Linked DNA regions of Homo sapiens: region 1 is linked to region 2. The links come from fine-mapping of genetic effects on gene expression. Tissue or cell type: whole blood. Region 2 holds a variant in brackets; the other region holds the start of a gene. All regions are shown on one strand. Distances are between the middles of the regions. Region 1 holds the start of MDS2 (myelodysplastic syndrome 2 translocation associated). Region 2 has its middle 7.2 kb from the start of MDS2.

Evidence for each region.
Region 1: it holds the start of MDS2, and the variant in region 2 is fine-mapped to the expression of MDS2 in whole blood (TOPMed, PIP above 0.99).

Annotation. Positions count from the first base shown.
Region 1 is chr1:23,625,144-23,630,520 of GRCh38, forward strand. MDS2 (myelodysplastic syndrome 2 translocation associated) reads left to right here and starts at 2,191. Exons shown (of 6, transcript NR_167910.1): 1 at 2,191-2,394; 2 at 2,638-2,855; 3 at 3,364-3,454; 4 at 4,338-4,414. RefSeq lists an enhancer at 645-764.
Region 2 is chr1:23,617,483-23,622,859 of GRCh38, forward strand. No RefSeq gene overlaps it. Among named protein-coding and RNA genes, the nearest start is that of MDS2, 7.2 kb to the right of the region's middle. RefSeq lists enhancers at 1,530-2,030, 2,031-2,531 and a silencer at 2,037-2,306. The variant A/C (reference allele first, on the strand shown) is at 2,065.

The DNA.
Region 1 (5,377 bases), 7.7 kb after region 2:
ATGAGCCACCGCGCCTGGCCAGGGGCTGGATTTTATTCCAAGTGCAGTGGGTGGTTTTGGACAGCAGAGTGTTGTGATCTGATATATGTCTTTATTTTATTTTATTGAAACAAGAGTCTTGCTCTGTCACCCAGGCTGGAGTGCAGTGGTGTGATCTCGGCTTACTGCAACCTCTGTCTCCCAGGTTCAAGTGATTCTCATGCCTCAGCCTCCAGAGTAGCTGGGATTACAGGTGCCCACCACCACAACAAGGAAATTTTTTTTTTTTTTTTAGTAGAGGCAGGGTTTTGCCATGTTGGCTGGGCTGGTCTCAAACTCCTGACCTCAAGTGATCCGCCTGCCTTGGCCTCCCAAAGTGTTGGAATTACAGGCGTGAGCCACCATGCTCAGCCTAATTTATGTCTTTAAAAGATCACTCTGACTGCCTTGTGATCAACTATCTATGAACTGATCTAAATACTTCTTGAAGCCACTAGTATTTTTAGCCAGTACCCCCTCTGTGTGAAGCAAAACTTCCCTTTACTGGTCTTAAATTTACTTCTTTCGAGTTTCAAGGGGAGCCCCCTTCTGCCTCCTATCTTAGGGTTAGTGGCCCAATGCGAGATCTCTAGTAAAGGTTTTCACAGAGTGGGTGGGAGGAGGGTCTCCCAGTTTATACCTTACCTGCTCTGTGATGTTTCACCACCTGTAAAATGAAAATAATGAGAGTGGCCACCTCAAGAGGCTTTGATGATGAAATGGGACACAGCTTGGCAGCAGGGAGTAATCAATATAGGCTAGCTTCCATGCAGATGACAATTATGGTGATCAGGAGGAGGATGATAATGATAGGGATGATGGTGATGGTGATGATGATGGTGATGATGGGGATGATGGTGATGGTGATGATGGTGATGTTGATGGTGATGGTGATGATGGTGATGGGGATGATGATGATGGTGATGGTGATGGTGATGATGATGGGGATGATGATGATGGTGATGTTGGGGATGATGATGATGGTGGTGATGGTGATGATGATGGGGATGATGATGATGGTGATGATGATGATGGGGATGATGATGGTGGGGATGATGGTGATGGGGATGATGGTGATGGGGATGATGATGATGGGGATGATGGTGATGATGGGGATGATGATGGTGGGGATGATGGTGATGGGGATGATGGTGATGGGGATGATGATGATGGGGATGATGGTGATGGTGATGATGATGATGGGGATGATGATGATGGGGATGATGATGGGGATGATGAGGATTCTGTTGTGTGATATTGGGGGAGTCAGTGAATGACATTTTCCATGTCTGTCAAATAAGGGTGTTGGACCAAATGATCTGTGAAGGTCCATCGAGGTCTGATGTTCTAGAATTTTCTAGTTTAAGTGCTCTCTTCCTCCTTTCAGCCTGGGTTACCCTCTTCCCTGCAATTTTGGTGCTCCCTAGTGATGTGTGATGAGAGATGGAGTATTATAGTAGAGACAAAACTGATGTGGAGTCAGGAGGCCCGAGGTTCCAGCGGCACCATTTATAGTGGAGTCTTCATCATGGTGCATTTAACTTACACACATTTTTTTTTTCTCTTTGAGACAGGGTCTTGCTCTGTCACCCAGGCTGGGGTGCAATGGCGTGATCTCGGCTCACTGCAACCTCCACCTCCTGGGCTCAAGTGATTCTCATGCCTCAGCCTCCCAAGTAGCTGCGGTTATAGATGTGCACCACCACGCCCGGCTAATTTTTGTATTTTTCACAGAGACGGTGTTTCACCAGGTTGCCCAGGCTGGTCTCGAACTCCCGGCCTCAAGTGATCTGCCCACCTTGGCCTCCCAAAGTGCTGGGATTACGGGCGTGAGCCACTGCACCCAGCCTAATTTACACACATTTAAACACGCGTGTAAAGGGAGGGGAGAGAGAGAGAGAGCACGTTGTGCATGAATCACTGCTACAGAGTCACACTCCAATTCCACTTGGTGAGCACTCACCCCTTGAGAGGGAATGTGACCTGCCAGGTTCCCCCCGCCGGTCCAAGTTCCTGCACTTCCAGCCTCATGTGGGCTCTCATCATGCTGAGTGTGATCCTGCTGTTCAAATGGTTTTTATGTGGTGTGGCCCCAGATACAAGCCAACCATTTCACCTGTGGTGAGCGGAAGGCGCAGCTATCTATAACACCTGAGAAAAAAAGAACCTGCTGTACTAGCTGTCAGCTGCTGGAGACCTTGCTTTCTGTTTCACTGGGAAACAGAAGCAATCAGAAGGAAACTTCCTCAGACTCCACCTCTCCCTTCACTCCCGCCTGTATCCGTGCCTGTTACCTGGACGCCTTGTGGAACTTGAATTCTACGCCCTCCACTGGGACACTGCCCTTCATCCTCTCTCACCTCCTCCAGGACAACAGTGAGCAATTCCTTGCGTCTCTCCCACAGCTCCAGGGGTCCCCCTCTTCTGCTGGCTCATTCACATCACCACACAATCGGCTGCAGTTCTTCCAATTGTACACACACACACACACATGCACAAGCCCATGCACACACACCCCCACACCCACACCGTCATATTTCTTTGCTCCCCCTTCCAGGAAAACATCTCAGTGTTTTCTGAATTGACCATCTTCATCCCTCCTTCCTTTTCTCTCTCCAGCTCTCTCTGTGGGGCTTTCACCCCCATCGCTCCACTGAAACTGCTCTTGTCAAGGTCATCGATGACCTCCCGCTGACAAACTCAACTGTCCCATCTCTACACCCCAAACTGACCCATCAGGAATAGCATGAGCTCCACCTTCCAAAGCTTCCGCAATCTCACCGTCTCCACCGTTACTACCTGTGTCCGAGGCACCACTGTTTCTTGCCTGGAGTTGTGTAAGAGCCTCTCAGTGACGTTCCCTGCTTTCTTTCTTTTTTTTTTTTTTTTTTTTTGAGACGGAGTCTTGCTGTCGCCCAGGCTGGAGTGCCGTGGCGCCATCTCCTCTCACTGCAAGCTCCGCCTCCCGGGTTCACGACATTCTCTTGCCTCAGCCTCCCGCGTAGCTGGGAATACAGGCGCCCGCCACCTCGCCCGGCTAATTTTTTGTATTTTTAGTAGAGACGGGGTTTCACCGTGTTAGCCAGGATGGTCTCGATCTCCTGACCTCGTGATCCGCCCACCTCGGCCTCCCAAAGTGCTGGATTACAGGCGTGAGCCACCGCGCCCGGCCAATTTTTTTTTTTTAGACGGAGTCTCGCTCTGTTGCCCAGGCTGGAGGGCAGCTCGCTCCAAGCTCCGCCTCCTGGGTTCACACCATTCTCCTGCCTCAGCCTCCCGAGTAGCTGGGACTACAGGCGCCCACCACCACGCCTGGCTAATTTTTTTTATTTTTATTTTTAACAGAGACGGGATTTCACCGTGTTAGCCAGGATGGTCTCGATCTCCTGACCTCGTGATCCGCCTGTCTCGACCTCCCAAAGTGCTGGGATTACAGGTGTGAGCCACCGTGCTGGGCATCCCTGCTTTCATCCTAGCACTCCCTGCTGCCTTTATACCCCATAGAATAACCAATGTGATCTTTTCATTTATTCATTTATTATTATTATTATTATTATTATTTTGGAGGCAAAGTCTCGCTCTATCCCCCAGGCTGGAGTACAGTGGTGCAATCTCGGCTCACTGCAACCTTCACCTCCCGGGTTCAAGTGATTCTCATGCCTTAGCCTCCCCAGTAGCTAGGATTACAGGCCCCCACCACCACGCCCGGCTAATTTTTGTGTTTTTAGTAGAGACGGGGTTTCACCATGTTGGCCAGGCTGGTCTCGAACTCCTGACCTCAGATGATCTGCCCACCTCGGCCTCCCAAAGTGCTGGGATTACAAGCATGAGCCACCGCACCCAGCCAATGTGATCTTTTTAAAACATGAGTCAAATTACTTCCTTCCTCTGTTCAAATGCCCCAGTGGCTCCCCTCTCACTCAGAGAAAATCTTAACACCGTTCTGTGGCCTAGAAAGTCCTACCTGAGCTGTGCACACCCCTCCCCACCTTACCTCCTGTTGCTTTTCCCTCCCTTGCCCCAGCCCCACTGGCCTCCTTGCTGTTCTTCGAGCAGCCAAGCACAATCACGCCTCCCGGTCTTCGCCCTTGTATTCCCTCTGCCTAGAGAAGGTAACTGCCCCTGCCCATTTATCCATGACAGGGCTCACTTCCGCTCATCACTAGGCAAGTTTCTCTGGCCATCCTGTTATACATACAATAGCACCCTAATCCTCTCTCACCTCTCCCACTGTCTAGCCCTCTCTCCTGCTTGTCGTTTCTTCATGGCATTCATCACTGTAGAACTGACCTTTGTTTACTGTATGTCTCTCCCACTAGAATGTTGTAGTCCTCATCATCAGCAGAGACTTTGTGCCATCCTCTGCTATATTATCCTGAAGAGTGCCTGGCTCATGGTAGGTGTTGAATCAATATACGTTAAGTAGATGAAAGCGTTTGCATAACTGGGAAGCTATTTGTTGGTGTCCACTGCACTCCAGCCTGAGTAACACAGTGAGACCCTGTCTTAAAATAATAATAATAATAATAATAATAATAATAATAATAATAATAATAATAATATTGGTGAGGGCTGGGTGCGATGGCTGATGCCTATAATCCCAGTACTTTGGGAGGCTGAGGTGGGTGGATTGCTGGAACACAGGACTTCAAAACCAACCTGGGCAACATGGTGAGACCCTGGCTCTACAAAAAAATTTTAAAAAGTAGCCCTGCATGGTGGCACGTGCCTGTGGTCCCAGCTATGCAGGTGGCTGAAGTGGGAGGATGGCTTGAGCTCAGGAGGTCAAGGCTACAGTGAACCGTGATCATGCCACTGCACTCTAGCCTGGCAGTCTGAGGGAGACTGTTTCTATATTGCTGAGGATGTGGGTAGCTGGAGAGTCTCAGGCATTATCAGTGAAAGTGTGAATTGCTATTACCCTAGTGTGAGGCAAGTCCTTTGACTCCTGAATCCTCAGTCTAGGAATTTACCCTCAGGTAATTCTTACCCAATGTCAAAAAGATGCAGGGATGTTCACGGAACTTTTTTTATAGTAGTGAAAAATTGGAAATGACATCAATGTCCAACCATACAAGGGTTGGTTGTTAAAATTATGATAGAGCCATATAATGAATACTAAGGGGCCATCAAAAATGATATTGTGAAAGGATACTTCATGAAACTTGAGAATATGTTTATAATATATTATTAAGTGAACATTTTTTTAAAAACCAGCAGGCCAGGTGTGGCGCCTCATGCCTGTAATCCTAGCACTTTGGGAGGCTGAGGTGGGTGGATCACCTGAAGTCAGGAGTTCAGGACCAGCCTGGCCAACATGGTAAAACCTCGTCTCTACTAAAAATACAAAAATAAGCCA
Region 2 (5,377 bases):
GCTGTCATCATCTACCTCAGCTCCTGATACAGGAAATTCTGTCACCTTTATTTTGTGTCTCTCCCTCTAATTGTTCTCCTGGATCTACTGCTGTTCAGTTTCAGAAAGTTCTTGCCCAACTCCCCCCCACCCCACCCCATTGCCATTACCTTGGTTCAGGCCTCCTTCAGCTCACCACAACAACTTGAATCTGTCCTCCCTTTCCTCCCCCTTTGTCCATCCTCCATACCTATTATGGAGATTTTTTTTTTTTTTGAGATGGAGTCTCACTCTGTTGGCCAGGCTGGAGTGTAGTGGTGCAATCTCGGCTCACGGCAACCTCCGCTTCGCGGGTCCAAGCAATTCTCCTGCCTCAGCCTCCCAAGTAGCTAGGACTATAGACACGTACCCCCACACCTGGCTAATTTTTGTATTTTTAGTAGAGACGGGGTTTCACTATGTTGGCTAGGCTGGTCTTGAATTCCTGACCTCAAGTGATCCACCTGCCTTGGCCTCCCAAGGTGCTGGGATTACAAGTGTGAGCCACCATGCCCAGCCTACCACAGAGATCTTTCTAGAACCCACAACTGACCATGTCACTCCTGCTGCAAACCCTGCGTGGCTCCCTGTCAACCTCAGGATAAAGTCTGAGCTTCCTAGGGTGGTAACTGGAGGCCATTCCCAATTCGACTTCATCTTTTTTTTTTTTTAAATTTTTTTTTTGAGACAGAGTCTCACTCTGTCACCCAGGCTGGAGTGCAGTGGTGTGATCTTGGCTCACTGCAAATTCTGCCTCTGGGGTTCAAGTGATTCTTCTGCCTCAGCCTCCCAAGTAGCTGGGATTACAGGCGTGCACCACCATGCCCGGCTCCAATTTGACTTTATCTTGAATCCATTTCCTCTCCCCATCCTGCATTTCAGTCACGTTTCACGCCCTTTTCCTGAGCACACTACCCCCTTTCTTGTCTCTGGACTTTTCTGCTGGAATCCGTCTCTGTCCAGCACGTGCCTTGCCCCTCTCCCCACCTGAGCTACAACCATTTTTCAGAGAGTCCCGTCAAGGCTGACTCCTCTGGGAAGTACCCCCTGTACCAGCCTGATCCCCCTTGCCCAGAGAGTCGGCTTCCCCCCTCTTCTGTGCTCCCATCACACCTGGGCCTTTGCGTCGTGGGCTAACTGGGACATGAGCCCCCAAGGGCAGGACCCAGCCTGACCTTCCTCTCCACCCTTGGGCCATCGCTGCACACTGCAGTGAGCTCCATGGGTAAAGGGGAATGCCATCCGGCCCTTCTCACAGGGATCCTCCTGGCTCATCTCATTTGGTTCTTGACTCATCCTTGACTCTTTAGGGCAAAGAGGCACCTGGAAGAAATAATTACAGTCTTTGCATGTGGGTAGTACTTCGCAGTTTACCAGGTGTTTCTGAGTTTCTCATTGGTCTTTATATGTCTGTGGGTTTCAGGGAAGTTGTTGTCAACCCCATTTTACAGATGGAAAGCTTGGTTCAGAGAGTTAGGGATGGAGCCAATCCCCAGTCTTGGGCAAGCCCCTGACCCTGAAAATCCTTTTGTGATCCAAGCCCCCCATTTCCTAAACGTGTGCTGAGAACCAGGGAAAACCGGGGTATCCAAGTAAGAAGAGGGAATGCAGATTCTGGCCTGGGCTAACAGCAACAGTAATAATGACCCCACGGCAGCCACTGCCCTTGTCCTGCTCTGCGTTCCATCCACGTCACGAGCATCATCTGCTTATGAGGAAGGGTTACTCATTCCCATGTTACAGATAAGGAAACCGAGGCCCAGCAAAGCTAAGAGACTTGCCTTTCTTGGCCAGTTTCCTTCCGATGCCTTGGTGATCGCTACAGCCCTTTACAGTTTGTAACTTTAGCACCCCTTTCCTGATCTCTCCAGTCTAGCACTGGTAGGTGGACGTGCTCCCATTTGACAGAAGCAGCAACTGAGGTTCAGAAGTCAAGGGTGGAGCTGGGAGACGGCTCTCAGCCTTCCGATCATGGGAGCGCGCCCAGAGCCTGGTGGCGCAGCTCTGGCGGGGAGGCGGGGAGCAAGCGATAGGGCCGCGAGTGGG[A/C]GTCCGCGTCTCCTCCCCGCCAGCCGCCGCCGCCGCCGCCGCCGCCACAGCAGAGCCTGGCTTCCCCGCAGCAAGCGCGGCAGGTGCGCAGCCGGTGGCGGCGTCGGCGCGGCGGGTGCGCCCGCGTGGGCGTGGGCGAGGGACCTGGGCGGGCGGGGCCCCACGCCCATCCTCCCTCCCCCCTGCCCTCTCTCCCGTGGCTGGCGGCAGGTGAGTGGGTGTCGAGGAACCGCCAGGCAGCGGAGAAAACAGGACGCCGCAGAAATCAGATTACTCACCTGCAGCTGCTACTACCCAGGGCTAATAAAAGCAGAGCTTCCTGTTGTTTCTTTATTACCGCCCTCTGCCTCCCTCCGCCCCAATCCGCTCCCAGCTGCAGCCAGAGCCCTAACTGATCGCCAGAAACCGGTTGCTTGGGGTCCAGACCAATCCAGTGCCTGAAATACCCTCTGTGCCGCACAGGGTTGGGTTAATGCTTCCTCAAGGGTGGACTTCGGTCACCTGCATGGGAACCACCTGGGGTGCTGGTTAACAACACACATCTCCAAATACGGCTTCACACCTGCTCGATCAATTCCTGCAGTTTGGGGCCCAAGAGCAGAATTCATAGGAATCTCAGGTGATTTGTAGGCAGGCTGAAGTTTGAGAACCACCGAGTCTGGATGTTGTAGGTTCAGATGATGTGGGTTTCCTGTTCTCAAATGCGACCCACAAGTTAGGGATGAAACCTATCCCCAGTCTTGGGCACGTGGGGCAGAGCCTCAGTCTGCTTATTTGTAAAATGGGGGTGAAAATAATACAGACCTCTCAGGACTGACTGAAACAAGGCTCAAATGGAGAATACACTTATCGTGATTCCTAGCGATTGCTCCTGGAGTGTATAGACCAACCAGGACTAGGCACGGAGTACCATCCATGGAGTGTGAGGGGCAGGATGAAGAAGCAGGCAGAATGGACCTCGGCTGGGAAGGGGCCATGATTCACCCTGGGTGCACTGAGAAAGACTTTTCACCGTTGAGCTTCTCCAGAGTCCAGTCCCCCTCACACCAGGAAAATGTTCCTGCCCAGGGCATGGACAACCCTGATGGCTAGATCCAGTGACCTCTTCTCAGCCCTTCTGTGACACCTGACTCTGGAGTGGACCTCACCTTTCTCCTCCAAGCTGTCACCTCCCTCAACTTCAGGGCAAGTTTGGATCCCCTTCTTCGTCTTCCTCCTATCTAGCTAGCAGCTCCCTTGCAGGCCCCCGCAGCCCTTCCTCCTCCTGCCTCCGCAGTCATGGGCACCTCGGCCTACTGCGCAGCCTCTACATCCTCCCAGGACAACTCACCCACTCCCAGTTACCTTCTTTAAGCTGAGCTCTGCCCTTCCTGAGTCCCTGATTCATAAACACAGCACCTCCTAGACATCTCTGCTTGGCAACTCCCCTGCATCCAACTCAACTTGACCAGCTCCAAACTCATCATCTCACTCTCCCCTGCCACCTGCCTCTTCTGGTTTCTCTGTCTCAGGGCAACACACCTGGATATTGTCCCAGGTGAGGTCTGCTCCTCAGCTCCTCATCCAGCTTTCCAATCCAATCCATTTTATCTCCCCAGTTTTGCTCCAGAATCTGTCCCCTTCTTCCTAGTCTTCCTGTCCCTCTGCACCCCAGGTCCCCTAGTTCAGGACTCCATAATCTCTCACCTGGATGATTCTAACAGCCTTTTTTTTTTTTTTTTTTGAGACCGAGTCTCACTCTGTCGCCCAGGCTGGAGTGCAGTGGCGCGATCTTGGCTCACTGCAAGCTCCGCCTCCTGGGTTCACGCCATTCTCCTGCCTCAGTGACATTTACTGAGCTCTTACCCAATGCTCAGTACCATGTCAAGCCAGTCAATCTTTGTAGCTTTAGCTCAGCCTCATACCATTTACATGATTATTATTCCTGACTTACAGATGAAAAAACTGAGGAAGAGGGAGGTTAGGTAGCTTGCCCAAGGTCACAAAGCTAGTAAGTAGCAGAGTTGGGATTTGTACCCAGGTCTCTCTGGATCCAAAGCTGGTACTGTTAGCTGTTCTAATCTTGAGCCACCTTGTCCCAGTTGCATAGTCTTCTCCTTTTTTGTATCTTCCCTGGCATCTCAGAGGATGCCTGGCATATGGCAGATGTTTGTTGAATGAATAAACAAATCTGTCTGCACTCCCATTTAATTCTTCTTTTTTTTGACAGAGTTTCGCTCTTGTCGCCCAGGTTGGAGTGCAGTGGCATGATCTCAGCTCACTGCAACCTCTGCTTCCTGGGTTCAAGCAATTCTCCTGCCTCAGCCTCTGAAGTAGCTAGGATTATAGGCATGAGCCACTACACCCAGCTAATTTTTGTATTTTTAGTAGGGCCTAGGTTTCACCATGTTGGCCAGGCTGGTCTCGAACTCCTGACCTCAGGTGATCCACCCACCTTGGCCTCCCAAAGTGCTGGGATAACAGGCATGAGCCTCCGTACCCGGCCCCATTTAATTTTTACAACAACCCTAGGAACTACATTTTTTTAAAAAAAACAAAACTTACTATGTAATATTTGATGATTACAAAAAATGTGTGTTGAATATCTGGCATATGAAGACAAACACCTGTGAACCCATGGCCCCAGCTTAGGAACTAGGCCTTCACCAGCACCACTGAGGCCACCTGTGTGTGCCTCCCCAGTCCTATTCCCTGCCTTCCTCCAGAAGTAAACACTATCCTGAATTTTGTGGTTATCATTCCATGCCCTTGCTTTGAAAAAAAAAATAATTTTACCAAATGGGGAGGATCCTGTGCAACACATTATTACGTTTGTTTTTTGATCTTTATATAAACAGCACAATGCATGTGCATTCTTCTTTGGCTTGATTTTTTCATGCATCACTATGTTTCTAAAATACGTACATGATTTTGCACTTTTGGCTGGCCTTCATTCCTTTTTCCTGCTGTCTAGTACTCCGTTGTCAAATAGAATTCAGTGACTTTATCCATTCTCCAGTTGATGAGCACATGGATTGTTTCCAGTTTTTCGCTATCACCAATAAGGCTGCCATGATCATTCTTACACCTATGTCTTGGTGCACACATGTAGGAGTTCCTCTAAGCTACCTACCTCAGACTGTAATTGTGGGTCATTGGGTATGCACATAATTAGCTTTACAAGATGCTGCCAAGTGATTTTCTGAAGTGCTTGTATTGACTAACATTCTTCCTTTCCTCTGCCACAGTGGATGAGAATTCCAGTACCTCCACATCATCCCCAACAGAGTATGATCAGATTCCTTCACTGTTCCTCACACGGTCTCCATTTGCA